4 linked regions of the Homo sapiens genome follow. The protein of the gene in region 4 interacts with the protein of the main gene of each other region in a pairwise test. Each region holds a gene or a part of one and is shown on either strand. Other genes may lie near its edges.

Evidence for each region.
Region 1: the proteins of RFPL3 (region 4) and EIF1AX interact in binary tests that used the Homo sapiens proteins (3 or more experiments, as listed by UniProt).
Region 2: the proteins of RFPL3 (region 4) and POF1B interact in binary tests that used the Homo sapiens proteins (3 or more experiments, as listed by UniProt).
Region 3: the proteins of RFPL3 (region 4) and RGP1 interact in binary tests that used the Homo sapiens proteins (3 or more experiments, as listed by UniProt).

Annotation. Positions count from the first base shown.
Region 1 is NC_000023.11:20,138,763-20,146,268, forward strand, and holds the start of EIF1AX (eukaryotic translation initiation factor 1A, X-chromosomal), read right to left. Parts: upstream 3,077-7,506; 5' UTR 2,879-3,076; coding exon 2,863-2,878; intron 1,683-2,862; exon of another isoform or gene 1,573-1,682; intron 1,474-1,572; exon of another isoform or gene 1,206-1,473; intron 1-1,205. UniProt on the Homo sapiens protein: Component of the 43S pre-initiation complex (43S PIC), which binds to the mRNA cap-proximal region, scans mRNA 5'-untranslated region, and locates the initiation codon. This protein enhances formation of the cap-proximal complex.
Region 2 is NC_000023.11:85,299,348-85,306,693, reverse strand, and holds part of POF1B (protein POF1B), read left to right. Parts: intron 1-360; coding exon 361-513; intron 514-783; coding exon 784-903; intron 904-2,222; coding exon 2,223-2,351; intron 2,352-3,205; coding exon 3,206-3,288; intron 3,289-7,346. UniProt on the Homo sapiens protein: Plays a key role in the organization of epithelial monolayers by regulating the actin cytoskeleton. May be involved in ovary development.
Region 3 is NC_000009.12:35,743,943-35,752,286, reverse strand, and holds the start of RGP1 (RAB6A-GEF complex partner protein 2), read right to left. Parts: upstream 3,001-8,344; 5' UTR 2,879-3,000; intron 2,551-2,878; 5' UTR 2,532-2,550; coding exon 2,416-2,531; intron 2,045-2,415; coding exon 1,908-2,044; intron 1,630-1,907; coding exon 1,546-1,629; intron 1,448-1,545; coding exon 1,298-1,447; intron 1,022-1,297; coding exon 875-1,021; intron 661-874; coding exon 533-660; intron 332-532; coding exon 142-331; intron 1-141. Other genes in the region: GBA2 (non-lysosomal glucosylceramidase), read left to right, coding at 3,583-3,941, 7,581-7,672, 7,875-7,990. UniProt on the Homo sapiens protein: The RIC1-RGP1 complex acts as a guanine nucleotide exchange factor (GEF), which activates RAB6A by exchanging bound GDP for free GTP and may thereby required for efficient fusion of endosome-derived vesicles with the Golgi compartment.
Region 4 is NC_000022.11:32,353,658-32,361,182, forward strand, and holds RFPL3 (ret finger protein-like 3), read left to right. Parts: upstream 1-4,209; 5' UTR 4,210-4,414; coding exon 4,415-4,787; intron 4,788-6,248; exon of another isoform or gene 6,249-6,594; coding exon 6,595-7,175; 3' UTR 7,176-7,504; downstream 7,505-7,525.

The sequences.
Region 1 (7,506 bases), on a different chromosome or scaffold from region 4:
AATCATATTAAATTTACAATCTCCAATCCCAACATTAACACATTATCACCTCCCTACCCTTCTTGGAATTTCCTTTGGGGATTTTTCTGACATAAAATACACATAAATAGCAGATATTATGTTAAAAAATATAGAAAAACATTTCACTTTAGCACCCATCCTTTTGAAATAAAAATGCAATTCTATACATATTCTTCTAAGCGGAAATCTTGGGTGTCTTCTAAAGCCAGGCCCTATGCAAGGAACCCGATACTTTCAAAATTAAGTGAAGACAGTGTCTGGACAGAGAACTGTGGTTTTCAAACTTTTGGTAGCAGAGTACCATAAATATTGAAATCTCACTGGGTGCAGTGGTGTGCGCCTAGGGTCTCAGCTACTCAGGAGGCTCAGGTGGGAGGATCACTTGAGCAAGCCCAGGAGGTTCCAGGCTAGCCTGGGCAACATAGCGAGACACTGTCTCTTAAAAAATAAAGAAGATCTGTTCGGTACCCAATTTACTTTCTTTTATAATGCTGGTCCCTACTCAACATCCCTGTTTCTATTATATGACCCCAGTGACCATGCTCTTAACCACTATGCAATAATTCTGCCCATTTACTTGTCACAATCACCCCATGAGGTCATAACATTCATTTATTCCCAGTTTACCCATGAGTTCCCTGAAGCTCAGAGAAGTTAAGTAAGTCGCTTAGCTTCAGTGAGTAAATCAGTTCACTGATTACAGTCAGTAAGCTGGGGTGACCAAAGTCACAATGTTTTTTTTGCCCCTAGCCCCCACATAAGCTTACCTCTCCACAGCATTTTGCTCCCATTCCAGAAAGGAAACCACATTGGCAGCCATTTCCAAAAGGCAGGAAAAAGGCTGTAAGTGGTAATGACCCTAAGAGACTCATGGGAAGAGCTTGGAAGCAGCAAAAAAAAATGGAGGACACTTAAATTAGGTCATGAAAAGTACCATTCCTCTAAGTAAGATAACTAAGAACTGATTGGTTTCAGACAGTACAGGAATGATAAACACCAAACTCAGCCTGGTGATTACCTCCAAAAAGAGAGTAAAAGGTGATTAGGGCTTTACCTCAATCTGCGCTGTAATTCTTAAATTCAGAGTAATGGGTTCCCAGGTATATCATGTTAGCTGTATTTTTTGTATGCCTCAAATGTTATTTAAGAAAAGACTAATTACTTGTCAATTTACCAGAATTAACCATACCCGGATCACTCCCCTTTGTATTTTATTGCCATGTAATGGGATGTTCTTTAAATTCTCTGTTGAATGAATGAGACTAGGTCTGAGTGTACAACAATTAAAGTGACATCAACATTCTTTAAACCAGAGTTGTTTTGGAGAAATTCCCAGAGAGGCTCTTTCTTAAGACATGAGGCTAGGGAACTAGATGTGATTTAGTGTAGAAGTCCTATCCCCTTGGAACCAAAGCAGAACCTATTATTCACTAAGGGTGGAGTCGACAGGAGGTAGGTGACTTAAACCAACAAATATTTATTAAGCATCTACTAATTGTCAAGTGCTGGCAATCCAATGAGATTAAGACAGATACTATTCCTGCCTTGTAGAGCTTACAGCCTGGTGGAAGAATTGGAAATCTTATTACTAGAAATAAAGGTGAGAATAAGATGGAAGTGATCCCCTTACCACCTCAGAGAGAATAAAGGATTATACAGAAGAAAACTGTAAGACTTTAAAATTTTTTGTTTATAACTCCATCTTTTCCAAAATAATGAGCAGTGACTGCACCAACTTGTGCACAGAACACCTCGACCAAGTACCCTAAGGGATAAAGTAATAAGTGACAGCTACAAAGAGGAAATGTGGTAGAATCCCTGGAGCCAGCTGTCAAGTAGAAAAGAGAGCAGAAGTAGGCCTGTGTCAGGGGAGGGTTTCCTCTAGAATGAATAATCAAAGGAGACTACTTACGGACTATGAAGTATGCTCCTCTCCTGTAGGAAAATACAGTATTTTCCCTATATTTACTTGCACAATTTTCTTCAAGTTATACGGCTATTAAAAATGACAGGAACACTGTAAATCTATAAAAGTAATTTCTTTAGGAGTGTTCTGTTTTTTGTTTTTGTTTTTTTTTTTTTAAGATTAGGCCTTCCGTTTTGGAAATCCCAAATAAAGTTATCCTCAAGTCTGATCATTTGTGAACGCTTAGCCTCAGAATGGAGGACACTTAAATTAGGTCTTTATTCTCACAACATATGCATCATCTGAAGCAAAAGTAGAAAACTTGGCTCAATATGGAATAAGTCTTCAGCAAACAAACATAAGCTATATCCTGTAAAGGGATGGAGAGAGTAAATCTCTAGAGGTGAGCCTTAGAAATGTATCAAGGTTTCACCCACTGTTCACAAGGGACAGCGAGTAGCCTCAACAATACTGAACTGTCCATAAAGAAACCCATGCAGGAGTACCTGGTGCTCACGAATGCAGACAGCACTCTGAAAGTTCAGAACGGCTTCCAGGGATTATAACCCCTCATGCCCGGGAAGGCCAAAGGGGCCTATCTACTAAACCTAGGCCGCCCCGGGGAAGGTTCCCGCCACCGTCCCCACCGAGCAGCGGTCAGTCTGGCGCGAATCAGGAGCAAAAGCCCACATTCTCCCGCAGGAGGCCCTACAAAAATGGCGCCGGCTCCACCCCAATGTGACCAAACTGGGCAACAGGAGTTAACTTCCCAGCTCCTCTCCCGAGCTCAGAGTCGCGTGTGGGGCGCCCAGCCGCGGGCAGGCAGGGCGGGAAGGAAAAAGGGTCACTGCGGCCTGGGTGACCTGCAATCTACGGGCAGGACCTGGGAGACCCGGCCGAGCAGAGCCGTGGTCCGGGGGTCCGGGCGGCATTACCTTTATTCTTGGGCATGGCGGTGGCGGCGACCTCGCGGCGTCTCTGACTTCTTTCCGGGTAGCGGCGACCGCGGCGGCTGCTGCTCCGAGGGGCGACACGAGGGAGCGCGCGGGACCAAGTAGGTGCTGGAGGCCAGGCAACGTGCGCGGGAGAGGCTGGCGACCCAGCTCTTCAGAGATCCGCCTGCGTCCACGCTCGGCGGCAGCAAATGGCGCCGCGACTCTTTGCGTCGCTTTTCCCCGCCTCCCGTCGCCGGCTGGGCCCGCCCCCAGGCTTTATGACGCAGGCGTGGCCGACTGACTCCTATTGTTAGAGCCGAGGGAGACGCGTTGTGGGAGGGTGCGCAGCAAGCCAGAGAGGACGCGAGGGGCAGGGCCTCAAGCAGGGAAAAGGCGGAGTCAGGGAGGGAGGGGGAGAGACTCTGCGTCATAGAAAAGGGCGGGTTGAGGTGGCGCTTGCTGCTGGTTAAGACCAGACCTCTGCTGCTTTGTAGCAAACGCGCGTCTCCCGGTTTCACAAGTGGCTGACTCGTTAACCTCGTGGTTAGCTCAGTTTTTAAAAAATATGTATATTTTTATTTTTATTTTATTTTTTGAGACGGAGTCTTGCTCTAGAGTCGCCCAGGCTGGAGTGCAGTGGCGCGATCTCGGCTCACTGCAACCTCTGCCGCCCGGGTTCAAGCGATTCTCCTGCCTCGGCCTCCGGAGTAGCCGGGATTACAGGCACGTGCCGCCACGCCCGTCTAATTTTTGTGTTTTTAGTAGAGACGGGGTTTCAGCATCTTGGCTAGGCTGGTCTTGAACTCCTGACCACGTGATCCATCCGTCTCGGCCTCCCAAAGTGCTGGGATTACAGGCGTGAGCCACCGCGCCCGGCCAATATTTTAATTTTTTTATTAAGATGGAGTCTTGCTCTATCGCCCAGGCTGGAGTGCAGTGGCGCGATCACGGCTCACTACAACCTCCGCCTCCCGGGCTCAAGCGATTCTCCTGCCTCAGCCTCCCGAGTAGCTGGGATTACAGGCATGTGCCACCATGCCCAGGTAATTTTAGTACTTTTAGTTGAGACGGGGTTTCACCATGTTGGCCAGGCTGGTCTCGAACTCGTGACCTCAACTCGCGCCCACCTCGGCCTCCCAAAGTGCTGGGATTACAGGCGTCAGCCACCGTGCCCAGCCGGTTAGCTCATAACGCAGTCCTTTCACTCGCCCAGCCGGGTTGGGAGCCTGATGGGAAGGGCAAGGCTTTCCTGGCATCCATTACCAAAGCATAATATTTGCATGGCACTTGTTATTACTCTTTAAGTCTGTCTGTCCTACCTCACTGTAAACCTTACCGGGCAGAGACCATGTTTGTTGCTTACCATTACCCCCACTTAGCTGAATGTCTGGCACATAATAGGTGTTCAATACACACAGAAAGGAAGGGAGGGAGGGGAGAAAAGACTTAAGCTCAATGTTAATGGGCTGAATTGTGTCCCCCCCAAAATTCGTATGTTCACGTTCTAATCCCCAGTAACTCAATGTGACTGTATTTGGACATAAGTTCTTCAAAGACGTGATTAAATTGAAATGAGGTCATTAGTGTGGACCCTTATCTGACTGGTGTCCTTACAAGAAGATATTATTAGGCCACAGGCATAGAGGGAGAACACCACGTGAACAAGAAGGTAGCCATCTATAAGCCCAGGAGAGAGGCCAACCCTGTTGACGCTTGATTTTAGACTTTCAGTCTCCAGAACAATGAGAAAATAAATTTCTGTTGTTTAAGCCACTCAGTACGTGGTACTTTGTTATGACAGTCCTAGCAAACTAATACAGCTGGCTAATGCTGGGCTGTACTCTACAAGATTTATTTCTAAGTAAACTTATTTTGACTAAACCAAGTAAACTTATTTTAAATAAATCACCTTTCCACAAACACCAGGGTTTGCACATACTTAGAAGACAGAAATAAAGTATCATCATCTAATATAGTGGTTCTTTTCTGTGAACATTTGGCAGCGTCAACCAGAAATGTTTCTGGTTGTCATAACTTGAGGAGGGGGGCAGTGATGCTGGCATCTAGTGGGCAGAGGCCAGGGATGCGGCTAAACATCCTACAGTGCACAGTACAATCTCCCCTCCCCCATACAAGCAAACAATTATCCAGCCCAAAACATCAGCAGAGCTGATATTGAGAAACCCAATGACAGATGCACTTCTTAGAGTGAAATTGAAAGATAATGGGGGACTCAAAGTTCTGGGTTTCTCTTTCTATCTGCAATATTTTTCAATTTACATAATTGAGGATGAAAGGATTTTTTATGAAATTTATTTAAATTTTGCTCCAAGGTCAAATAATTATGAACTTGAGCTTTGGAGTTAGAGAGGCCTGGGTTCAAATTCAAGCTCTGCAGTAACTTATTACTCTATTTTCTTGGGCAAGTTTTAATCTCTTTACAAGCTTCCGTTTTCTCATCTGTAAATTGGATGTAGGAATAGTACTAACCGGCCAGGCGCAGTGGCTCACACCTATAATCCCAGCACTTTGGGAGGCCGAAGTGGGCGAATCACCTGAGGTCAGGAGTTCGAGACCAGCCTGGCCAAAATGGTGAAACCCCATCTCTACTCAAAAATTCAAAAATTAGCCGGGTATGGTGGCAGGCGCCTATAGTCCCAGCCACTTGGGAGACTGAGGCAGGAGAATCACTTGAACCCAGGAGGCGGAGGTTGCAGTGAGCCAAGATCGCGCCACTGCACTCCAGCCTGGGCAACAAGAGTGAAACTCCATCTCCAACAAACAAACGAACAAAAAAAAAGAAAAAAAAAAGAATAGTACTTACATTAGGTTGTTGCAGGAATTAAATTGATATAATGCATTCAATTAGCAATTGTGCCTAGTACATGGTAAGTAGTTAGACTCTAAGAGTCCGGAACTCTAAATGTTTAAAAATAAAAAGTTTCTGTCAATTACCCAGTATAAAACCTCAAAGAGGAAAAAAAAATATCAGGCTTCATTTCTCTACTGTAGGATGGTTCCCCCATCTGACTGATCATCTTAATCACTTGGAAGGAAGTGAGTCAGGTGGACATCTGGGGGAAATGTGTTCTAGGCAGAGAGAACAGCAAGGGCAAAGGCCCTGAGTGGAAGCATGCTTGGTATATTCAGGAAACAGCAAGAAGCCAGGTGCAGTGGCTTCCACCTGTAATCCCAGTGACTCAGGAGGCTGAGATGGGAAGATCGAGCTTGAGGCCAGTAGTTCGAGACCAGCCCAGGCAACATAGCGAGACCCACCCCCCCATCTCTAAAATAATAAACACACGACAGTAAAAAAAGCCAGGCATGGTAGTTCACATCTGTAGTCCCAGCTACTTGGGAGGCTGAGGCAGGAGGATCCTTAGAGCCCAGGAGTTTGAGGATGCAATGAGCTATGATCGTGCCACTGCATTTCAGCCTGGGCAACAGAGTGAGACCCCATGAAAGAAAGAAGGAAAGGAGGAAGGAGGGAAGGACATAAATGAAGGAAAGGAAAGAAGGAAGGAAGGAAGAAAAGAAAGGTCAGTGTGGCTAGAATGCATTGAGCCAAGGGAAGAATTTGAAGAGATGAGATTGGAGAAGTAAGGAGGCCAGATCACTTGAATCTTCAGTAGGTTTTTTTTTTTTTTTTTTTTTTTTTTTTTGAGACAGAGTCTCGCTCTGTTGCCCAGGCTGGAGTGCAGTGGCGCGATCTTGGCTCACTGCAACCTCCGCCCCCTAGGTTCAAGTGATTCACCTGCCTCAGCCTCCCTTAGTAGCTGGGACTACAGGTGTGCGCTACCGTGCCTGGCTAATTTTTGTATTTTTAGTAGAGACGGGGTTTCGCCATGTTGGCCAGGCTGTTCTCGAACTGCTGACCTCAAGTGATCCACCCGCTTTGGCCTCCCAAAGGGCTGGGATTACAGGCATGAGCCACTGCGCCCGGCCTTTCAGTAGGTTTTTAAATAGATCATTTTGGTTTCTGTGTTAAGAACAGACTGTAGGGGGCAAGGGTGGAAATGGAAACCACACGGGAGGCTACTGTAACAGTCCGAACGAAAGACAGTTGTGGCTTGGACTAGGGTATAAAGTTTCTTTTTAGGATGGTGAGAATGTTCTAAAATTACATTATAATAATGGTTGCACAACTCTGTAAGTACTATACTAAAAGACATTAAATTGCTGGGTGCGGTGGCTCACACCTGTAATCCCAGCACTCTGGGAGGCCGAGGCGGGTGGATCACAAGGTCAGGAGTTCGAGACCAGCCTGGCCAATATGGTGAAACCCCGTCTCTACTAAAAAATACAAAAATTAGCCGTACGTGGTGGTGTGCACCTGTAGTCCCAGCTACTTGGGAGGCTGAGGAGGGAGAATCACTGGAACCCATGAGCTGAGATCGTGCCACTGCATTCCAGGCTGGGCAAGAGTGAGACACTGTCTCAAAAAAAATAAAAACAAAACAAAACAGTAAATTGTACACTTTTTTTTTTGAGACAGAGTTTCATTCTTGTCTCCTAGGCTAGAGTGCAATGGCGTAATCTCAGCTCACTGCAACCTCTGCCTCCCAGATTCAAGTGATTCTCCTGCGTCAGCCTCATGAGTAGGTGGGATTATAGGCTCCTGCCACCATGCCCGGCTAATTTTTG
Region 2 (7,346 bases), on a different chromosome or scaffold from region 4:
TCCCAAATTCTTGCTCAGTTACTAGTTGTCATGTAAATAATCAGGCATATGGTCGTTTCTGTGCCTACTAGAAAGCAGGGTACAGTATTGTCACAGAGTAGCAAGAGTCTGATTGTTAAATTGAGACATTATAAATTCATCTAGTCATGATTCCCTCTCTCACAAAATAGATGAGTGAGACTAGAGGCAACACTATAATATCTTACATGGGTGACTTAATGTACCATCTAAGACCCAGAGTATAAGAAAACTGGGCATAGGAAAATATTTACTTGATTCAATTGAATGAATCAATAAAAAGAACACTCCCTCACCAAAAACAAAATGCATTTGTCTTATGTACTTGTGTCTTCTTTACAGCAAGGACTTCAAGACTCAAGTTCAAAATGCCAGGCATTGGAAGAAAACAATCTCTCTCTTCGACATACACTATCAGACATGGAATACAGACTAAAAGAACTGGAATATTGTAAACGTAATTTAGAGCAAGAGAATCAAAACCTTAGAATGCAGGTATTAAAACTTCCTTTTAAATATACAGTATTACCTTAGTTACATCATTGTAATCCTAGCATTTAGAAAACATATGGACTGCTTTCCCTCACATACTGTTAGATCTTAATCACTGACATTTGAGCTTTATAATGCAGTTCCTGAAAATCACTTTCATTATTTCAATGTCTTATTTAATCATGTGGTTTTCATCTAATAACAATCCTTGTAACATAACATGTATTTTCTTCAAAACAATCCAATTACAGATAGTTATTTTGCCTTCTGTAGGTTTCTGAGACTTGCACAGGCCCAATGTTGCAGGCTAAAATGGATGAGATTGGCAACCACTACACGGAGATGGTAAAAAACTTGAGAATGGAGAAAGATAGAGAGATCTGCAGACTGAGGGTATGTTGATCCTACATTGCATAAATACACAGGTCAGCACAAACTTTCTAGCAAGATAATGATGGCTTCAAGTTTAAAGCTACCAGAAAAAATTAGCTGAAGGTAGAGTTTTAGAAATATGTCATGTATTCATTTGTTTTAAATACATTACTGTATCTAAAATATAACTGTTAAATGATTTTCTAATTTAGCTTAATTTCTTCTAGGAAAGTAAAAGAAGATATTCATTTCAGTGGTTTGGTTTTGGTTTTTATTAATTTATTTTTTGGGATAGATGGAGGACTCTTCATGATCTTGCCTAAAGCATGCTTATGTAGGCAAAAGCAATATATGAAATTACTCAACAGAGCCATAGTTAGATTTGTAAAAATTCTCACTTAATTTCGAGGGATGATGAATAGCAAGGACTTTGTCAAGCATGAGGAGGAAAACAGTGTTAAGTTTTAGGTACCTATAGTTGACATCAAAATTAAGGTGATATTTATAAGTATATATTGCCTTAACTTGTAATTCTAGGTTGAATTTACTTAATCTAACCCTTATTTTACTGATTCCTAAAGGTAGTAAAATATACTTAAATATTTTAATAAACAAAATAATCACAAATTTGTCTCTCCAAACATCACTGTATAATTTTTACCAAAAATCAAAATGAAACAAAATATAATTTGTTTTCCAAACCTACCAATACTTCTAGCAGATTTCCTCCACTGATTTCTTTTCCATTCCAACATTACTAACAGCACTTCTACCTAAGCTACACACATATGAGGTAAAGAGGGAAATGGACAAGATTTGTAGTCAGAAGACCTGTTTTGGAGTTGCAGCTATGTTACTGCGTGACTGTGTCATTTAACCTCTCTGGAGCCCATTATCTGTTTTGTAAATGAAGATTATAATAATGCTTATTTCATGGGACTGCTGTGAGAACTGAGATAATTCATGCAGGAGGAATATTTTGTGAACTGAAAATCAGAATATAATAGTAGTAATTTGTTATTGCTATTTCCTTAATTATTATTTCAAGGACTCTAAAGTGCCTGTTTTCTTAGCTTTACTTTAAATTTTGTGGCCTAAGACTGTTACGTAGATAATGTTTAGTCCTACATAGCAAAGACACCTTAAAAAAAGGAGAAATTTGTAATTGGCATTTCATTTCATATTACATACTCATGAAATTCTTCGAACGTTTATGACTATTGGTATTTTACTTTCATTTCATAACTGTGTGAGTTTGTGTCACTTAACCTCCCTGGAACTCAGTTACACATTTTCTATATGAAGATTATAATAATATTTATTTCTTTTTAAATCCTTAGTCCCAATTAAACCAGTACCATAAAGATGTTTCAAAGAGAGAAGGAAGTTGTAGTGACTTCCAATTTAAGCTTCATGAACTGACAAGCTTGCTGGAAGAGAAGGATTCCCTCATAAAGCGTCAGTCAGAGGTATAAAAGGAAGGGGTGGGGATGGAGAAAAGTAATACAACTTAGTACTGTAGTACTGTAGGATAAATACTTCCCATGGACTAGAAAAGGACACATATCCAAGAGTCACTTTATTTAATGAAATAAAATGTAGGTGCAAGTGAGGAAGTAGAATATACATATTTCAGGAGACACAATTCAAATGAAAGTTACAATTGAAGCAAAAAATAAGTGCTGTTATACATTTAATATTTTTAAGACATTGATTTTATATTTCATTAGCAGTGAAATTCCCAGTAGACTGTGACCTCCTTACTACATTATGAGCTGCTTCATTAAAGCATGTGTTATATTCCTCCTTGTATCTGTAGCATGTAGCCCATGACCTGGCATTCAATAGGTACTGAAGGAATTGTCAAAAATTATGGGTAATATTGTATTGCTGTTATGGAGCAAATGGTGCTTGTAGTAACATTCATTGATAAACTCTCTCTTAAGAAACTATATCTGCTTATATATTGAAGTTTCAATACTTTTCTTCTATGGATATACTTTTCAGGCTTTTCAGAGCAAAAACTTTCACATCCTCATCCTGAGAACCACGCCCATTCAATCTCAAGTTATCCTCCAAATTTAGATATCCTGTATCAGTTGCAGGTTCCTGCACCGGCATATAATATAACTTATTAGGTACTGTGAAGCAACACTAGGTGATATTCAACAAGTGGGATTAGAACATTATTACGTCAAGGCTAAAAAGGGGTAAAAGGGAGGGGGTATAATCATTGTTAGTAACCCTTCTAAATGATTAAATATATTTATTATCTCATGTTTCTACTTTCCATCAAATGATTATATTATCTTTTATTTGTAAGGAACTCTCCAAGTTGCGGCAAGAAATATATTCCTCTCATAACCAACCCTCCACTGGTGGAAGGACTACTATTACCACTAAAAAGTAATGTATTTTTAAATGAAATTTGAATATAAAAATTATGATCATATAATCCAAGTTATTTCATGTTTAATTGGTATATACAAGCTAGACAGAGTTTGGTGTTTTCTGCTGGCCAGTTATTCTACTGAAGAATGAATATTCACAAAAAGACATCACTATTGTGGTCAAAAAAATCCTGAAGCACATCTTTCCTGAATTTACAATATATTAATTACCTTGGAAGTGAAAAACAAATAATTGTTTTTTTAACCAACCACATTAGTTAGGACTCTTTCTGTTTCATGTGACAAGAGACCCAATGTAAACTGGGACTTTTTAAATTCACTTAAATGGGGTTACTTGGTATCCAGATGGATTTGTGTGTTCAAAATATGCCTTTATAAATATGTCTTTCTTTATATCTTGGCTCTGCTCTTTCCTGTGTAGACATCTTAATCAGGTAAGGTCTACCCTCACGGTAGCAATATGACCACAAATTACATTCCAGCCATTTAGCAAAACCAAATATAAAGTAATTATGAATAGCTTCAGCAGAAGTCTATTTTGGATATTTCATATAAATGAAATAATACAACATATAGTCTTTTGTGTCTGGATTTTTCATTTTGCATAATGTTTGCAGGATGCAAGCATGATTTAGCATGAGTCAAGACTTCATTCCTTTTGGTTGCTAAATAATATCCAGTTGTATGGATATACATTTTATTTATTGATTAATCAGTTGGACATTTGGGTTGTTTTCAATTTTTGGCTATTGTGAATAATGCTGCTGTGAACGTCTGTGTACAAGTGTGTAAGGTACATGTATTCATTTCTTTTGAGTATATACCTAGGAGTGGAATTGATAGGTCACATGATAACTCTATGCTTAAGGAATTGCCATACTGTTTTCTAAAGCAAAAGCACCATCATACATTCCTAGTAGTGTATGACGGTTCCACTTTCTCCCCATCCTCGTTGCCATTTGTTATTGTTCATCTCTTGGATTATGGCCATCCTAGGTGGTGGAAAGTGGTATCCAATTGGAGTTTTGATTTGTATTCCCTAATAACTAATGTTTTTTAGCAATTTTTATGTGCTTATTGGCCATTTATACATCTTGTTTGAAGAAATGTCCATTCAATTTTTTTCCATTTTTTAAGTGAGTTGTCTTTTTATAGTTGAATTGCAAGAGATTTTCACATGTTCACAAGTCCCTTATCAGAGACAAGATTTGCAAATATTTTCATCAATTCCATGGGTTGTCTTTTCACTATCTTGAGAGTATAATATGCAGCATAAGTATTTAATATAGAAAAAAATCCAATTCATCTATATTTTTTCTTGCTTGTGCTTTTGGTATTATATACAAGAAACTGTTGACTAACCCAAGATCATAAATTTTACATTCATAAGTATTTTGTCTTATATTAATATAAACTGTCTTCTGGTTACTAATTGTATGAAATATCTTTTTCTGTCCTTTCATTTTTGACCTATTTGTGTATTTGATTCTAAACTGTGACTCTTGTAAACCACACATGGTTGTATCTTTTTATACATTCTGCCAATCTCTGCTTTTAGCTGGAATATTTAATGCACTTACATTTAATGTAATTCATAAGTTAGAATTTACATTAGCTATTTTGCTATTTGTTTCTATGTCTTATGTTTTTTGTTCTTCTGTTCCTCCATTCCTGCCTTCTTCTGTGTAAAATATTTTCTACAGTAACATTTTAATTCCATTTTAGTTACTTTTACTATATTTTCTGAGTTTTTCCCCTTAGGTTTCCCCCAGAAATTTAATTAATATTTACCTGTATAGTTACCTTTACTGGTGATCTTTATTTCTTCAAATGGATTTGGGATGCTGTATAGAGTCCTTAAATTTCAGCCTGAAGGACTCCTTTAGTATTTCTTGTAGGACTCCCTTTAGTATTTCTTGTAGAACAGGTTTTGCAGTGACAAATTCTTTGGGTTTTTGCTTGTATGGGAATATATTGCTTTTCCTTCATTTTTGAAGAATGGTTTTGCTGGATAAAATAATTCTCAGCTGACAGTGTTTTTTTGTTACTTGGAATATGTCATCCCATTGCCTTCTGGCCTCTATAATTTCTGATGAGAAATCAGTTGATAATTTTTAATTGAGGATCCCCCTGACATGTTTCTTTTTTACTGCTTTCAAGATTATTTTTTTCTATGGCCCTTGACTGTTTGATTATTATGTGTCAAGGTTTGGATCTCTTATTTTTCACTATTTGGCATTTGCTGAGCTTCTTTGATGTGCAGATTGATATTTTTAATCAAATCTGGGAAGTTTTCAGACATTTCTTCAGCTATCATTCCTGCCACTTTCCTCCCTCTCCTTGTGGAGTCCCCATAAACAGAACAGAATGTTCTGAGGCTCTGTTTATTTTTCTTCATTCTTTTTTCTTTCTGTTCCTCAGAATAGATAAACTCAACGGACCTTCTTTGCAATTTGTTGATTCTTTCTTCCATTTGCTTACATCGGCTGTTGAGAAATTTAAATCTAGTTATTATCTTTTTTACCTCAGAATTACTGTAGTTTCTCTTAAAAGTAATTTCTCTTTCTTTAATAATGTTCTTTATTCCATAAGCCACAACTCTCATCCTTTCCTTTAGTTCTTTAGTTCTTTGAGCATACTTAAAATAGCCAATTTAAAGGCTATGTAAATGCAACATCTGGCTTCTTAATGGATAGTTTCAAGTGATTTTTTCCATGATAGGCAATATTTTCTTGTTTCTTTGCATGTCTTATAATTTTTTATTGAAAACGTGACATTGAAAATAATATAATGTGGTAACTCTGGAAATTAGATACTCCCTCCTGCCAAGGTGTTCATTGTTGCTATTATTTGCTGTTGATGTTATTGTCTTTTGCTTAGTGGCTTTTCTGATTTAATTCTATAAAGTCTGTATTCTTTTCATATGTGGTCACTGAAGTCTCTGCTCATTTATCTTAGTGGTCAGTTAACATTTAAACAGAGGTTTCGTTACAAACATGAAACTAGTAAGTCTCCTAGTTTTCACTGAGAGGCTCTTTGTCTGTGTTTGGACACCTCTTCAATGTTCTGGTAGGCAATTTATAGCTCGTCCTTAGCCCCCAGTTCCTGCTTACACAGAGTTTTAAGGTTAGCCAGTACTGAGGGCTCAGGATTTTCTCAGGTCTTTCCTTCACATGCGTACAGCCTTGGGCATGTACAAAGCCCTACACATGCCTGTGGCTTTCTAGATTCCCAGGAACATATAACAAATTTTCAAAGCCCACTATGGACAATTTATTTCTCAGTTTTTCCTTTTATCATTTTTGGTCAATTTCTTGTCTGCCTGAACTATTATAGCCACCTCAGGTAGTTGTGATATTAAACAATTTCCACACATTATTTTCGACAAATGTTCCCAGGAAAAAGGATTTGCAAATTGGTTGAGCTACGAGTCAAGTTTTAAAAGGCATCCTTGCAAGTGGAGTTTTCCACAGAATCAACAGACAAATCAAACAATGACAATTATAACGACAATGTGGCTTTGAAGGAGCTCTAACCTTGTTTTGTCTTCTAGTTGCTGCCAGGCTCCTGGGTTTTACCCAGATTGTTTTAAGGGTCGGGCGCGGTGGCTCACGCCTGTAATCCCAGCACTTTGGGAGGCCGAGGTGGATGGATCACGAGGTCAGGAGATTGAGACCATCCTGGCTAACATGGTGAAACCCCGTCTCTACTAAAAATACAAAAAAAAAATTAGCCAGGCGTGGTGGCGGGCACCTGTAGTCCCAGCTACTCGGGAGGCTGAGGTAGGAGAATGGTGTGAAAACAGGAGGTGGAGGCTGGGCGCGGTGGCTCACGCCTGTAATCCCAGCACTTTGGGAGGCCGAGGCGGGCGGATCACGAGGTCAGGAGATCGAGACCATCCTGGCTAACACGGTGAAACCCGGTCTCTACTAAAAATACAAAAAATTAGCCAGGCGTGGTAGCGGGCGCCTGTAGTCCCAGCTACTCGGGAGGCTGAGGCAGGAGAATGGCGTGAACCCGGGAGGCGGAGCTTGCAGTGAGCCGAGATCGAGC
Region 3 (8,344 bases), on a different chromosome or scaffold from region 4:
TCTGAGAAACTGTTCCGGGTCAGAGGCTAGACGTGGGTATGTCTGGGAGTGTGTATAAGGAATCAGGATCCATTACACCCTCCCTTAGCACAGCATTTTACTGTCCCCCTCTCCCTTCTCCAGTAACAGTGAGGGTCTCACCAATGGCTGTACAGAAGCCTGGGGTGGAGCTGAGAGGGATTGGGAGGGAGAAGCTGGTTCTAGTTGTATGTAGGCAGGATTCCTGGTGCCGGGCGTGAGTCACATGTGACACAGAGGGGACACCCCCTGCCCCACGTCGCCGCTGGTACTCAGGCTGTACACGCTCCTCGGTCTGTAAGCTGACTGAAAACTGGGAGCAAGAGACAGGTGTGTGCTAACAGGAAGTGCTGTCTGTAGGTGAGAGGACAGCCCAACCTCAAGCTGTTTTACAAAGGGACCCTGGATGACCCCACTATCCCCTTCTACATGCCACCCCTCTTTATACAGGCCTTCCACCCTAGCCCTTCAACCCCAGCACCCCAGCAGGTAAGAAGCTCTGCTCCCTTCTTACCTGCAAACAAGCTACGGTTCCTTCCCCTAAGTTTAAGGTCCCCACCACGTCCTCGCCAAGTCTGTACACAGATTTGAAGATGCCAAACGTCCCAACTTTCCCTCGGCCATCACTGATATTGTATAGATCTGGGGAGAATAGGACACTATAAGCCTGGAGTCTACATACTGGATAACGTCTAGGACTGGGCACCACAGGCCAAAAGATGGGGCTTTTCTTTAAAATTGGAGGTGTCAGGTATCAGTGGATCCACAGAAGTGTGTGGTGGTTAGGAGACTGTCTCTGAGATGGGAAAACAATGAGGGGAAGGATGGGGTAGGACAATTCTGAAAGAATTCTCACGGAGGCTGCGGCAGGATGTGGCAGCCATTAGGCGTTCCCCAGCCAGCTCAGCTAGCCATGAATCTTTCTTCCCACCTTCATCCTCCTCCAAGAATGGACTGGATGGGGCTACAGCCTCATCCTGGGGAAACCGGACATCCTGAAGGCCTAGAGAAAGAATGAGTGGAGAGGTAATGCTGAGAGGGAACGGAGATGAGAGTAGAGGTTAGGGTTTTAGATTCTAACATGAGATGGCTAAAGGTAAGGGGTGCCAGGGCTGAGGTTTACATCTCTATCTCCAGAACCCTCCCTCCCTTCCCAACTCCCTAGCACTGTCACTGAGACCAGGAAGTTTCCCTGCAGTCCCTCTTGCAAGCCCTCTAAGACAATTTCTGCTTTGGCATCGCCCTTCCCCAGCCCTTCCCTCCAGGAGCCCTTGCTTACCAGTCAGCACAAGAACCCTCAGAGGGACTCTGAGTAAAGTGATAGGGGAGTTGACACGCTGGCAGCCAATGGTCAGTTTGTAGACGTACTTGACTGACTGACCCCGAAAGGAGGGTGGTCCCTCTATGGGCAGCACTTCACTGTAGGAGTCTGGTTGGGAAGTAGTTGTCAGGACAGCCAGAGGCACCAGAGGAGTCCTCCCTCCAGGAGACTTAGAAGGCAATTCAGGGATGGGGACAATCACTCACATGATTTGGACTCTCCAGGATCAAGCCTCAGGTCACAGAATAGAATTTTCGGTGGAGTAGAAAGGATACACTGGCCCCTCTCACCTGAAAAAGGTAAAAATGACTAATTTAATGACCCATTGTCCAGTACTGAACAAGACTAGCACGGCAAGTGGAGATAGTGAAAGGCTGCCAGGCCCTCCGTCCCTGCTGTGAAATGGGAATAGTCTTCTACCCCTAAAGCAATAGTCATGCTCCCCAACATCCCCAGCATGACAGGGACTATAAGAACAAGAACAATTAACAACTTCACCCATGGGTGACAATGCCTCCACACACACCCTCCGCACCCCCCCTCTCCCAGGCAAATGCCCCTCTCTAACCTCGGTGTGGCAGAAAGACAGTCTGGCTGTCGGGCTGGACATCTGGCTGACTAGAGTCAGGAGGAGGCAGTGCTACTCGACTCTCACTGGCATGGAACTGGCAGTGGATTTGGGCACTGGCCCAGGCCAGGGCCTCACTGTGGGAAAAGGAAAAGGAGGCATCAGAGGTAGTTCCTGACCTCACAAATGCTTTCCCAAGCTCCCTATCACACCATCTTAACCAACAAGGTTAGATGGCTGTCCTAGTGATCAGGAAATCCACAATCCCAAAGAGAAACCATTAAATAAAGAGTAGCAGACTGTGCGTAAAAAGGGGAACGGGGGAGGGGAAGGAAAGCGTACAGCTATGTCATCCACATCTTCTGTTAAAGAGCCCTCTCCTACAATGACAGCACAGTGAGCAAGAGGAGGTGGTGTCGCTACAGGACAACCTGAGCTCTGCCTCAGCCCCAGAGATAATCTGGCTTCTTCCCAGAAGGGCCACCACCTTCAGTGCCAGCATCCCCACCTGGATGCAGAAGTGGCCGTGGGCGGAAGGGGGTTGGTGACGGTCACTACACACTCCAGCGCCTCCCCAGCCAAAAATACAGGACCCCGGCTGAGCTCTGCTACCACTTCAATCATGGCAGCTCCGGAATCAGATCTAGAAGGAAACAAGGCGGGGCGGAGGTCAGCACCTTGACAGGGAGGGGCGTTGCGGTGAGCACCTAGGGCTGAGGGCTGAGGACAGGGGTGGTCAGCACCGTGGTGCCCGAGGGAGCTCCTGGATATAGGAGGGGTAGGCGGGTGGGAGGGAGGCGACTGAAGACTCAGTACTGCCCAGGGGGAGGACATCGCTCTGGGCCCTAGACCCCAGCCCCTGTGCGACGGGTTCTTCTCCCTGGGCACCCCCGCGGAGTTCCCAAACTGGCCTCCGCTCCCCCTTTCCTCAAAGTTCCACGTCCCAGCCCAAGATCACCGCCGCTAGTCACCTCGCATAGTCGACACTAGGGATCGGCACCCCTAGGCCTCATCTGCCCGCCCCTCAGGGACCTGGCTAGGTACGCGGCGGCGGCGGCGGCGGCGGCGTCCGCTGGGCGGTAGAGGCGGGACTTCCCTTCGGTCCCCCACCCTCCGCGGAGTCCCTTCCGGCCGGAAGCGCCCGGCAGGCCAGACCGGAAAGGGCTCGGGTCATCCCGGCGCCCAGGGTCACCTTCCCACGGGCTGGCACCTGGGCGCGGGCGCTGCCCCGGAGCCGGCCGGCGGGACCTGGCGCCCAATCCTGGGGGACCCGGTGCCGTGGCCCAGGGGCCGGGCCGAGGTCCCGGGGGCGGTGCCTTGCGGGCCCGTCCCGGGGCGGTGCCTGGTGGGCTGGCCCCGCGGCTCCTCCCCTCTCTGCGGGCCCAGTCGCCCTTTGGCCGGGCGAGCTAATCGTCGGCTCAATGACGACGAGGCCCGACCCTTCCCGTCCAGGACCTACAGAGACAACCGAAGGAGAGCCCAAGGCGGCTTCTTTGCTGTCGCCGCCCCCACTGAAGCAAGAGCTCCCCGGCTCCACTGAAACACCAGCTCATTTAAGCTTTCCCCAACGCCCGGCCCTCCGGGACGATACCTAACAACGACCGGCGCCCGCATCTGGAATAGGCTGGCGAGATACTTAGTATCCGAGGGCTCGGGACTTGGCGCCATCGAGGTCATGGGGACCCAGGATCCAGGGAACATGGGAACCGGCGTCCCAGCCTCGGAGCAGATAAGCTGTGCCAAAGAGGATCCACAAGTTTATTGCCCTGAAGAGACTGGCGGCACCAAGGATGTGCAGGTTACAGACTGTAAGAGTCCCGAAGACAGCCGACCCCCAAAAGAGACGGACTGCTGCAATCCGGAGGACTCTGGGCAGCTGATGGTTTCCTATGAGGGTAAAGCTATGGGCTACCAGGTGCCTCCCTTTGGCTGGCGCATCTGTCTGGCTCATGAGTTTACAGAGAAGAGGAAACCCTTTCAAGCTAACAACGTCTCCCTAAGCAACATGATAAAGCATATAGGCATGGGCTTGAGGTGAGTAGACCCCATTGCCTAGAATGCCTTTGGCTTCACTTTGTTCCAGCTCAAAACTTCTAGCAGAGGTGGGAAAGGGCAAGAAAGCAGTTGGGCTTCTTGTCTGAGTGAAGCGGTCCCTATCCCTGGCATATTTTAGGCCTGTGGTTTTGGACCGTGAGACCAGGTCACATCTCTTTGCAACACCCTTCCCTCCCAGTGTTTTGTCTTTTCAGAAGGAAAGGGTAGGAACATTTGGTCATGCAATCAGCCTTTCCCATTCAGGCTCTTCTCACATACTGGTTTCCAATGACTTCCCTTTGGGATTAGCTATACTTTGTGGCAAGGTAGGAAAGGATAATCTGGCTGCTGTGATACTAACACAATGTTGTTTTATTTGGGGGTGGGGGGGTCTCAACCCCTTATTTCCCACAAGCAGCTGGGGCATTCTCTGTACCTCATTAGACACACTGTTAGAGTCCCAACACTACTGCTTCTTTCTTCAAGCTTTAGCTCCAGGGAGTAGGTAAGAAGAGCCTCCCTGCCCTCACCTCTGAAGTGATGAGAAGGTGCTGTCATTCTGTTCTGGGATAGAGAGCTCTTGATATTAAGTCATTTATCAGAGAGGCACTGCCATAGATGTAGAACCCATCTAGATCCCCACTGAGTTCAAAGACTAGTGATGAGGAGCCAGACCCATTAACAGGAACAGGTGGATGTGAGGACAGAAAGCATCACCCTGAGGTCATCCTGACTCAGTCTACACAATACACACAGAACTGTGGAGGGAGGCATAAAGCTTGGGAAACCCTGCCCTTACAGTTTCTAGAGTAGGAGACCCTTCATTTCCCCAGTCAGTGCTGTGGGGCTGTGATGGGGAGATCAGTTATCTAACCCTAGCCCTGGGGAGTGGGAAGGGCCTGATGCTGCCTGCACATCTGGCTTTGTTGGTGCCTGTGGGTAGCCTGTAGCAGAGAAGAATCATCCCTCCAGGCTGCTTCTGGAATCAATTCAGTCCAAGTTTGACCCCAAAAGTTTTTGCATCAAAATAGGATCTAGTGTACATAGAGAAGTACACTGAGTTGCATGTGGTAGGAACAATGAGATCAAGAAAAGATGGGCATCCTAGCCTCTTAGCCCTTAAATATGAACTGAGTCATAGAGGCCTGAAGCTGTGCTCAACCCCCTGGACCCTGGCTCCCCATTCCAGGATAGAGTGGGGGGTACTGATACAAGGCTTTTGGAATAGGATGAGTTCCTATGAGGAGAAAGCACAGGTGAGACAAGAATTCTAAGTGATAACTCTTGAGTTGAGGTTGAAATTGTGGAGAAGGCCAAATAGGTCAGGAATGGCCAGCTACCATATTAAGGGAGTAAGAGAGCTCCTAAGATGGAGCTGAACTGTGGGCACTCTGACCAGGAGCTCTAGCAAGACAGAATTCTCTGGGTCTTACCTTCGTAAGAACTCAATTTCAATTGTTCTCCCTTCCAGCCAGAGTCCACTCATTCAATAAATATTTATTGAGTGCTTGTTCCATGCCAGATAGTCCTTTGTTCTGTCTGTCCTCATAGATTGCAGTTACTCTCCCTGGTTGCCCTAATCCTCGGCCACACCCTCCCTCTACCAGTCCTTTCTGGTCTCTAGTTTCAAAGTCCGGTTTTCTCTAAGCTGGCAGAGAGGATTCTCTGCCTTCCTGTCATCCCATCCTTTGTCTTCCCTCTTCTTTCCACCCCTAGAATGTGCTGTCCCTTTTTATTTTATTATTATTTTTTTTTTGAGACAGTCTTGCTCTTGTCACCCAGGCTGGAGTACAATGGTGCAATCTCAGCTCAGTGCAACCTCCGTCTCCTGGGTTCAAGCGATTCTCCTGCCTCAGCCTCCTGAGTAGCTGGGATTGCAGGTGCCTGCCACCACAGCTGGCTAATGTTTTTGTATTTTTAGTAGAGACGGGGTTTCACCACATTGGCCAGGCTGGTCTTGAACTCCTGACCTCACGTGATCCGCCCACCTCGGCCTCTCAAAGTGCTGGGATTACAGGTGTGAGCCACCGTGCCTGGCCGCTGTCCCTATTCATTAATCACATTTCTTCTCCTCTGCTCCAGTCTGTTATCTCTCTTGTGCCCCATCATTTGTATGTTCATTCATCTGTAAAATTGGCAAATATGCATTGACTGCAGACCATATGTCCTACCCTGTGCTTGGACCTGAGGGTAATATTCAGCTAGTCTTTGTCATTGTCCCTTTCCCCAAGGAACTTAAAAGTATGTCAGCCTCACATGAGGAACATTGAAATAACAAGGCAATGTCTGATTAGGAATTGAGATAACAGTTTGTATATATGAGTAATAATCATACCTGTACTTTATGGCTTTCTTATCTATTATGTCATTTGATCTTTCAACCATTTCATTAGATAGCTAGAGCAGGTGGTATCCCCATTTTGTAGATGAGGAAACTGGGACTTAGGGGTTACTTACCCAATTATTTGGTTAGAAGTGGTGTGACTGAACAGTAGGCATAATGTGGCAGTAGGCAGGAGAGTGGAAATGGGAAAGAGTCTGGCAGGGCAGGGGCTACTTAGTGAGGACCCATCTGGAATGAGAATTTGTAGGAAATAAGATTAGAAGATAGGCTGGGACAGATGTCAGAGCCTTGAAAACAGAATCGTTTGCCTATTGAAAACAGCCTCAATCATTTGCCTCTTGGATATAGGGCTGTACCAAGCCCAGGAAAATGTTGGGATTTTTTGAAGGCTTTACCAAGAGCAAAATCAGAAAGCTTCACAGTTTAAATGTTGAATTTAAAAAAAAAAAAAAAAAAGGCTTGAGAGGAAATGTCCAGAAATAAATATAAACACTGATTGTCTATGGGTGAGATTATTTTTTTCCCCCTTTCACCTTTCATAATTAGAAAGAAAAATGATCATTTTAAAAAGAAGAAAGGCCAGAAGCGGTAGCTCACGCCTCTAATCCCAGCACTTTGGGAGGCCGAGGCGGGCGGATCACCTGAGGTCAGGAGTTCAAGACCAGCCTGGCTAACATGGTGAAACCCCATCTCTACTAAAAACACAAAAAAATGTGCCAGGCATGGTGGCGGGCACCTGTAATCCCAGCTACTTGGGAGGCTGAGGCAGAAGAATTTCTTGAACTTGGGAGGCGGAGTTTGCAGTGAGCCAAGACCGAGCCACTGCACTCCAGCCTGGACAACAAGGAACGAAACTCTGTCTCAAAAAAAAAATAATAAATAATAAAAATAAAGATAAGAAAGTTATTCCCAGCAGCCTATGCCTGTTTTGGAGGTAGGGGATTGGGGGCGGAGGCTGTAGGCCAGGAAACCATAAATGGTCCTTTCAGCACGTCAGACAGAAGCTCCTGATGTTGGAAATAAAGCAGTGGTGGTGGTGCTAGAGAGGTAAGGAGAGATCAGAAAGCCCCTTCTGAGGAGAACAAAGGAGAGAAACAAAGCCACTCCTTCACTTCAGCTGGGGTGACTGGGAAGATGAAGGGACCTTGAACTGTATAGAAATCAAGAGGAAGAAAGGTTTGAAAGCAGATGTCCTTGGGACATTTAATGGGAGGTCACAGAGAGAGGCAGGTGACTCAGCCTGTGAACAGCTGCCCACCTGCCCCCTTCCACTCACATTGCCTCTTGCTCCTCAGGTACCTGCAGTGGTGGTACCGGAAGACCCATGTGGAAAAGAAGACACCTTTCATCGACATGATCAATTCTGTACCCCTAAGACAGATTTATGGTGAGCCCCACCCCATCTCTGCTCTGCTCAGAGAAGGCCTAGCCTCCAGGTCTACCACAGTTAGGAAGAGACTTCCAGCTTATGCAAATTGCACTGTTCCATCCCCTAGGTTTTCAGAGGAACCAGGCTTTATAGTCTAGAAAGTTAGAAATGGGCTTATTTTCCTCTCCCAATACCCCACTAACCACCCTGATTTCTCTAGGTTGTCCCTTGGGTGGCATCGGGGGAGGCACTATTACCCGTGGCTGGAGAGGCCAGTTCTGTCGTTGGCAGCTTAACCCTGGAATGTATCAGCACCGGACAGTCATCGCTGACCAAGTAAGAGCCAGGAGGTGGAGAGGCCAGGACAATACCTCCCCAGGCCAAGAAGGAAGGACCTCTTGGCTAGTGTAGAAGGTAGCAGTTAGATGTGAATAAGATTCAATCTAATAAGTACTCTCGGGATGCTTCCTGTGTGCCCAGCCCTGAGCTAGGATATACCGTAGGAATAAGACACACACAAGCACACATTCCTTGAAAGAGTAAACAGATCTGGCATTTCTCTAGTAAATGCCTCCTGTCTACCTCACTGCCCCAACCCAACTAGCTGAGGCAGCCCCCAACCACAGAGAATGCAGAGAATTCCCAAATCACTTAACCTGCCTGAAAGAACATTTTGTAGGACTGGAAGGG
Region 4 (7,525 bases):
CAACCACCGGCAGTGTAGCATCCAATGGCGACCCCAACCTGCCCTTGCTTCGGACACTGCAGCACCCAATGGCGCCCAGAACCCGCCCCCTGCCGCGGGCAGTGCAGCCCGGGATAGCGCCCCCAATCCGCTCCCTGCCGTACACAGTGTAGCCACGAATAGTGCCCCCAACCAGACCCCTGCTGGGGGCAGTAATGCCCTGATATGGCACCCAAACCGCCCCCCAACTGCGGGAAGTGCAACCCCGGATAGTGCCCCAACCTGCTCCCCACTGGGAGCAGCAACCCAGGGAGACGCCCCAACTCACTCCCTGCCTCCGGCAGTACAGCCACAGATAGCGCACCCAACCCACCCCCTGCGCGGGCAAGGTAGCCCCCGATAGCGCACCCAACCCGCCCCGCCGGAACCAATGTGGCCCCAGGTAGCACACCCACCAGCTCCCTGGCACGCAGTACAGACCTCTGATAGCACCCAACCCGCCCCCTCCCAAAACGGGCAGTGGATACGTCCCTCAATAGCGCCCCCAACCAGCCTCCCACCCCCTCTACACGGGCAGTCTGGCCCCCAGTAGCACTCCCAATAAATCCTGCTATCTCTGTCTCAGTGTAGGCCCCAGAAAGCGCCCTCAACACCCCCCTCCCTGCTGCCAACAGTGTAGCACCCTGTAATGAGCCTAACCCGTCCCCCACCACAGCACTGCAGCCCCAGATAGTGCTGCCAACCTGCTCCCTGCTGTGGGCAGTGCAGCTATGGATAATGCCCCCAGCCAGCTTCTAGACGCAGGCAATGATGCCCTGGATATAACACGTCCCGCCCACCGCAGGCAGAGTAGCACCCGATAGCGCCCCCAACCCGTGCCTGACAAGGGCAATGCAACACCCGATAGTTCTTCCAACTCGCCCGCCGGCCACGGCCACTGCATCCCCAGATAGTGCCCCCAGAACTCCCCACTGCCGCTAGCAGTACAGCTTGGGATAGTGCTCCAACCCACCCCCAGCCACGGGCAGCGCACACCCGATAGCACCCCCAACCCACTCCCCTCTGTGGGCAGTGAGGCCCCAGATACCACATCCAACCAGCCTCCTAACACGGGCAGTAACGCCCTGGATAGGGCCTCCAACCCACCCCACCACGCCACGCCACAGGCAGTACGGCCTGGGATGGCGAACTTTTCCCACCACCATTTTACCATTCTGGCTGCGCTCTAGTCTCCCTGGCCCGCACCAACGGCAGCAGCGAGGTGAGCCACGGCAGGCTCCAGCCTCCACTGTGCTAATGAAGTTGCTCCTCCTCCTTTTCCTCTAAGCTTCCAGACTCCAGTGTGCTCAGGAAGTGACTCGTTTTCTTTTTCCTCTAAGCCAGTACTAACCAGCTACACAAGCTGACGCAGGAGAGCTTGGAATGACAAAACTCCCCCCACTTGGCATCATTTATATATGAGAATTTATGCAAATGAAGTTCCTGGGCTACATGTTCTGATTGGATGAGGAAAACCTCTAGGCCTACTCTGATTGGACTTTGTTATCATGTTCTGATTGGTTGTCCTAAGACTTGCTCTCATCCAATCAGAACATGCAAATAAAGCCCAATCAGAGTAGATCTAGAGGTTTTTCTTCTCATCCAATCAGAATATGTAGTCCAAGAACCTCATTTGCATAACCTCGGTAAGGGGAAGTCTCAGTTCCAGGCTCTTCTAGGCTATGTTCTCTGTCTCCACACCTTCCTCTCAGACAGCAGCTGGAGCCCCAGAACCTGGGAGCCTCACAGAGAAAGTCCTGATGTGGGACCTGGTTTTCCACCCGAGACCCAGGATCCAATAAAGAAGTGTTTCCATAAATGATGCATCCTCCAAAGAAGGCCAGTGACTTTCTGTGCCAAGTACCTGACAGAATTGCCATTTCCTAGAGCTGCCAGGCAGCCCTAGGTGCACAGGTCACCTGTGCATGTGTCAGAGACCAAATCCCATCAATATTGAGGCCTTGGTTAAGACAGGTACTTGCTTTTAGTCGTGAAAAGATGCCTGGCTTTGGCAGGAGAATCGCTTGAACCTGGGAGGCAGAGGTTGCAGTGAGCCAAGATTGTGCCACTACACTCCAGCCTGGTGACACAGCGAGACTTTGTCTCAAAAAAAAAAAAAAAAAAAGAAAGAAAAGAAAAGATGGCTGGCTTCAACACTGAGAAAACCAACTCTCCTTGAGCAAATGCTTTGCATATTCTCATAGAAATAAGGGAACACCTATTACCCTCCTTGCACTGCTTCCTGCACAGCTGGGATACTACCTTTCACAAGCATCCTGAGCCACCTGCTGGCCTTTTGTGTGTGTTTCCTTCCTGGCTTCCTCCCATTTTTTTTTCCATCTCTGAACCTGCTGTAAGGTGAAGAATTGAGGCGGGCCCCAAATGTAAGACCTCATGAATTTGACGATGCAACAGTGTCCTGGACAGCCTGGCTCTCAGGGCTGGGGAGCTGGGCAGAGAGAAAAGAGGGCATTCCAGGGGCCAGGGAGCTCCAGGCCCAGAGTAGGATTTCAAGGCTAAAGAAACAGAGGCTGTGGGTGGGTAGAGGGTCTTGACTAGGGTAGGGACAGAGGGTGCGTCTTAAGGCTCAGCTAGGGACAGCTTCATCCAGGAAGTAGTCAGCAATTGGGGGCCAAGCTGCAAGGAGGAAGAGGTGGGGAGAGAGAATGGAGAGAGAGGTGTTCAGTGATCAAATGCCTGGCCTGGCCTGTTTCCTCAGGAGACACCCCTGGGAGTCTGGGAGCCTCTCCCCCGGGCTGCTATCCAACAGGGTGCAAGTAATCCCCCCTTACACACACTAAGAACCCAGGGTGAGTGTCAAATTATATGTTAGCTAAGAAATGAAGAGAGGGAGCAGGATTTCTGGTTGACGGTGAGGATATTTATTAAGGGTTTACTGGTACAAGGAGAGGGGCTGGATGATTTGGGGTGGGAGGGGATCTCTGTTCTGGGATCCTGCAGCTCCAGGCCCCCATGGGTGGGGTGAGGGTCAGGGACCTAAGAACATTCTTCAGGGGCCACTGTCTTCTCCACAGTGCTCTCTTGTGTGTGACCTTACAGCTGTAGCTGCTGCAGGACCTCCACTGGTCGGGTGTCAGGCTCAGGTCGCTTCTGGCTGTGTGCTTGTTGCTCTGTTTGGAGGTCTTGGTGACTTCCGTACCCTGGGTGACAGGGGTGCTGTTTGCCTTCCAGGCCACCGTCACAGCTCCCGGGTAGAAGCCACTCATGAGACACAGCAGTGTGGCCTTTTGGCTTGGAGCTCCTCAGAGGAGGACGGGAACAGAGTGACCAAGGGGGTGGCCTTGGGCTGGCCTGTGGGTGGGCGAGCGGCAGGAGGTCAGCATCCTGTTGTGTACCTGGGAGCCCCCTGACCTCAGTGTATGAAGAGGGGTCAGGCCCCCTCAGTGCCAGTGTAGGACCCCTCAGACATGGTCCACAGTGTCTCAGAAGGGTGTGACATGAGGTTCCTAAAACAACTCTCTGTCATTCAGGGAACCTCCGAGCCTGTCCCCTGCCCACCAGTGGTGGCAGTTAATTTGGTATTCATTTCCAAGGCTGGAGAAGGATGTAATTTTTTTTCTTTTCTTTTCTTTTGGTGAGACAGGGTCTTACTGTGTTGTCCAGGTTGGAGTGACCTGGCGTGGTCTCTGCTCACTGCTAATTTTTGTATTGTTTGTAGAGATGAGGTCTTCCTGTGTTGTCCAGACTCGTCTCAAATTCCTGGGCTCAAGGGATCTTCCTGCCTTGGCCTCGCAAAGTGCTGGGATTACAGATGTGAGCTACTGCATCCAGCCCCCTTTTTTTTTTTTGAGATGGTGTCTCACTCTGTTGCCCAGGCCGGAGTGCAATGGCACAATCTTGGCTCAGTGCAACTTCTGCCTCCCAGGTTCAAGCGATTCTCCTGCCAAAGCCTCCCAAGTATCTGGGATTACAGGCGTGTGCCACCACGCCTGGCTAATTCTTTTGTATTTTCAGTAGAGATGGGGTTTCACCCATCAGGCTGGTCTCGAACTTTTGATGACCTCAGATGATCCACCCACCTTGGCCTCCCGAAGTGCTGGGATTACAGGCATGAGCCATCGTGCCCAGCCTCTCAGCTCCTAATTCTTATGTTCATCAATCAGTCTCTTGCTGGGGTTCCCCTAGGAGGTGGTGAAATGACCCCAGCTCGCTGTTCCTCACATGGGTGCTGCCACGTCACTGGCTCAGGCTCAGCTGCTGGGTCACCAGGAGAATGGACCCTTCCTCCACCTCAGCTCAGAGCACAGTGATGATTCGTGACTTTCCCAATAGAACTTCAAATCTCTGAGGACGGGGGGTGGGGGGATGTGCTTGAGTGTTTGTACTCATGGTCTTGTTCTCGGAGTGACAAAGCTGGAACACAATACCTCTATGCATGAAAAGGTTGTCACTTGTCACAACTAACAGGCTTTCACCTCAAGGAAATTTTCTTCCCTTGTGTACTTTTCCCCTGGCAGTGGACATGGCTGCACTCTTCCAAGAAGCAAGCAGCTGTCCCGTCTGCTCAGACTATCTGGAAAAACCAATGTCCCTGGAGTGTGGATGCACCGTCTGCCTCAAGTGCATCAATTCGCTGCAGAAGGAGCCCCATGGGGAGGATCTGCTTTGCTGTTGCTGTTCCATGGTCTCTCAGAGGAACAAAATCAGGCCCAATCGGCAGCTAGAGAGGCTGGTTTCCCACATCAAGGAACTGGAGCCCAAGCTGAAGAAGATTCTACAGATGAACCCAAGGATGCGGAAGTTCCAAGGTAAGGAATCTGTATACCCTGCCCCCTTCCCAAGACCAGACCAGGAAAAATCATCTGTGCAGTTGGCCCCTCATTCCACATGGGGATTAGCTGCTGTCTGGCACCTAAAATTGAGATGCTTCATCATCACATTCTCAGCCCTGACAACACATAGAATCACCTGGTGATGTCAAAAACAAAAACAAACAAAAACCCGATGTCTATGTCATGGGTTAGACAAGGGATTCTCTAAACTTAGTGTGCTCAGATTACCTGGGGATCTTGTTAAAATGCAGATGCTGAACTGGGAAGTCTCAGGATTGATCCCGCTGGCTTGGGGACTTTGCTGAGTAGCAAAAACATAGAGCAACTGAATTTGAATTTCTCTCTAGCAAAGGTTCCCATGAATCTGACATTAAGATGGGCCTGGTATTTCTAATGCACAGTGAATATTGGCACCCATTGTACCAAACAACCTCACCCCAGGGTTGAGAAGAGTTGGGAATGGAGCACCTATGGTGTTTGTTTCTGTGAGTGGGGAGAGTTGCAGATATTGGTCTCCTCATCCATGCGCCATGGGCTCCAACAGTGGTCCTGGCTACAGAAAATACTATCACTCTCCATAACTCTGGGGAAAAGGGACATTTAAATGAAAAGGTTATGGTCAGCCTGGGCAAAGAATTACACCTATAAATGGTGGTGGGCCCCTATAATGTCCCTGACACTGGTAGCTTCTGCCCTGACACCCATGATCTCTACTCATCCATCTACCCATACCTGACTGTCTCTCTGCTGAACTATGGAGGACAGAGATTCACCCTGTCCAAGTCATGTTTGGAACCCTCTTCCTCCTTCCTTGTCCATGTCCATTCCCTAATTCACCATTAAATAGCAATCAATCCCTAGTCTTGACTAGGGTAGTCTTACTGTGATCTATAAAATCTATATTAGTGATCATATCAGTTTTTTGACTTGAAGGATAATATATTTTGTAGATTTTTTTTTTTCAGAATGTTCTGGACAATTAATTTTCTCTAGGCCAGATCACACTGCCTCCTCCATGAGAATTGGCGGCTTCACCTGTCAGTCACATACCCAATGCCTTAAATTATTGACCTTTGTATTTTCTGCCCTTATTCTCTACAATCAGTCAGTTATGACAGACAACTTTCAAATACCTTTCTCTTGGCTCCAAAATTTACCATTGTTTTGCTTAAGGTCTCACCTTCCATGTAGGATAGAAAACATTCTTTCATCTAAAAGGTCCCCCTCCTCCACCTGGCCTTAGAGCCTCCTAATGTCCAGGACCAGCATCTCTGTCATCACATTGTCAGCTGCAGAGATACCCTATCTGCTGTCAGAACTGTGCACAATTAATTTGTTTACAAACATGGAAAACAAAAGCCTGGAATCATGCTCTATATACTGAATTGGAGCAATAAAATGTGGAAGCAGAAACATATTTAATATTGACCACTTGCATTGTCTTAATTATCATTTATTTGTTCACACATCAAGGTGGTAGAAAGGGGGGCATGGTGTCTGCCTTCAGAGACCCTCCACTCTAAATGAAGAAAAGTTCAGTGAAGCAAACACGTGACGTAAAGTAAAATAAGAATTGCTACTGTGAATAAGAGTCACGTATTGCCACAAAGCATACCTATGAAAATTTGAAATAGGGAAGTTTCCTCATGAAAAGTTTTGATTTTGGAGGAAGAAACAGAATTAAAGAAACTAAAGTCAGGAGATATTTGGGCCTTTGAAGTAGAAGAGAGGCATGGGGTTGGCTTCTGTCCACTTGCTGAGCAACTTGTTTTCCTTTTCACAGTGGATATGACCTTGGATGCCGACACAGCCAACAACTTCCTCCTCATTTCTGACGACCTCAGGAGCGTCCGAAGTGGGCTCATCACACAGAATCGGCAAGACCTTGCCGAGAGATTTGACGTGTCCGTTTGCATCCTGGGCTCCCCTCGCTTTACCTGTGGCCGCCACTACTGGGAGGTGGACGTGGGAACAAGCACAGAATGGGACCTGGGAGTCTGCAGAGAATCTGTTCACTGCAAAGGGAAGATCCAGCTGACCACAGAGCTTGGATTCTGGACTGTGAGTTTGAGGGATGGAAGCCGCCTCTCTGCCAGCACGGTGCCGCTGACTTTCCTCTTAGTAGACCGCAAGTTACAGCGAGTGGGGATTTTTCTGGATATGGGCATGCAGAACGTTTCCTTTTTTGATGCTGAAAGTGGTTCCCATGTCTATACATTCAGGAGCGTCTCTGCTGAGGAGCCACTGCGCCCATTTTTGGCTCCTTCAATTCCACCTAATGGTGATCAAGGTGTCTTGAGCATCTGTCCTTTGATGAACTCAGGCACTACTGATGCTCCAGTCCGTCCTGGGGAGGCCAAATAAGCCGCCACTGCAAAAAAAAACAGGGTCAGAAAATTACTTGGGTGGGTAGACTTAGGAATTTTCTACTTGGTAAAAGCATTATACAGTCATAGGAGAAAGATATGGGACATTTCTATAATCTATATTCTAATTTGATTCGATTATTGAGTCGTAAGTATTAATTATTGCCACCATCCAACTCATTGAGTCTTATGGTTCACATCTTGTTTCCTATAGAAATGTTCTGTATTCTCGGATCAATTTCCAAATGCTTTACTTTTTCATTTCTGTAAGTTCAAATCAATGTTTAAATTATAGAAGTTATGAGGTAAATAAACATTTGGATATCACCTAATGCATCATGTGATTTT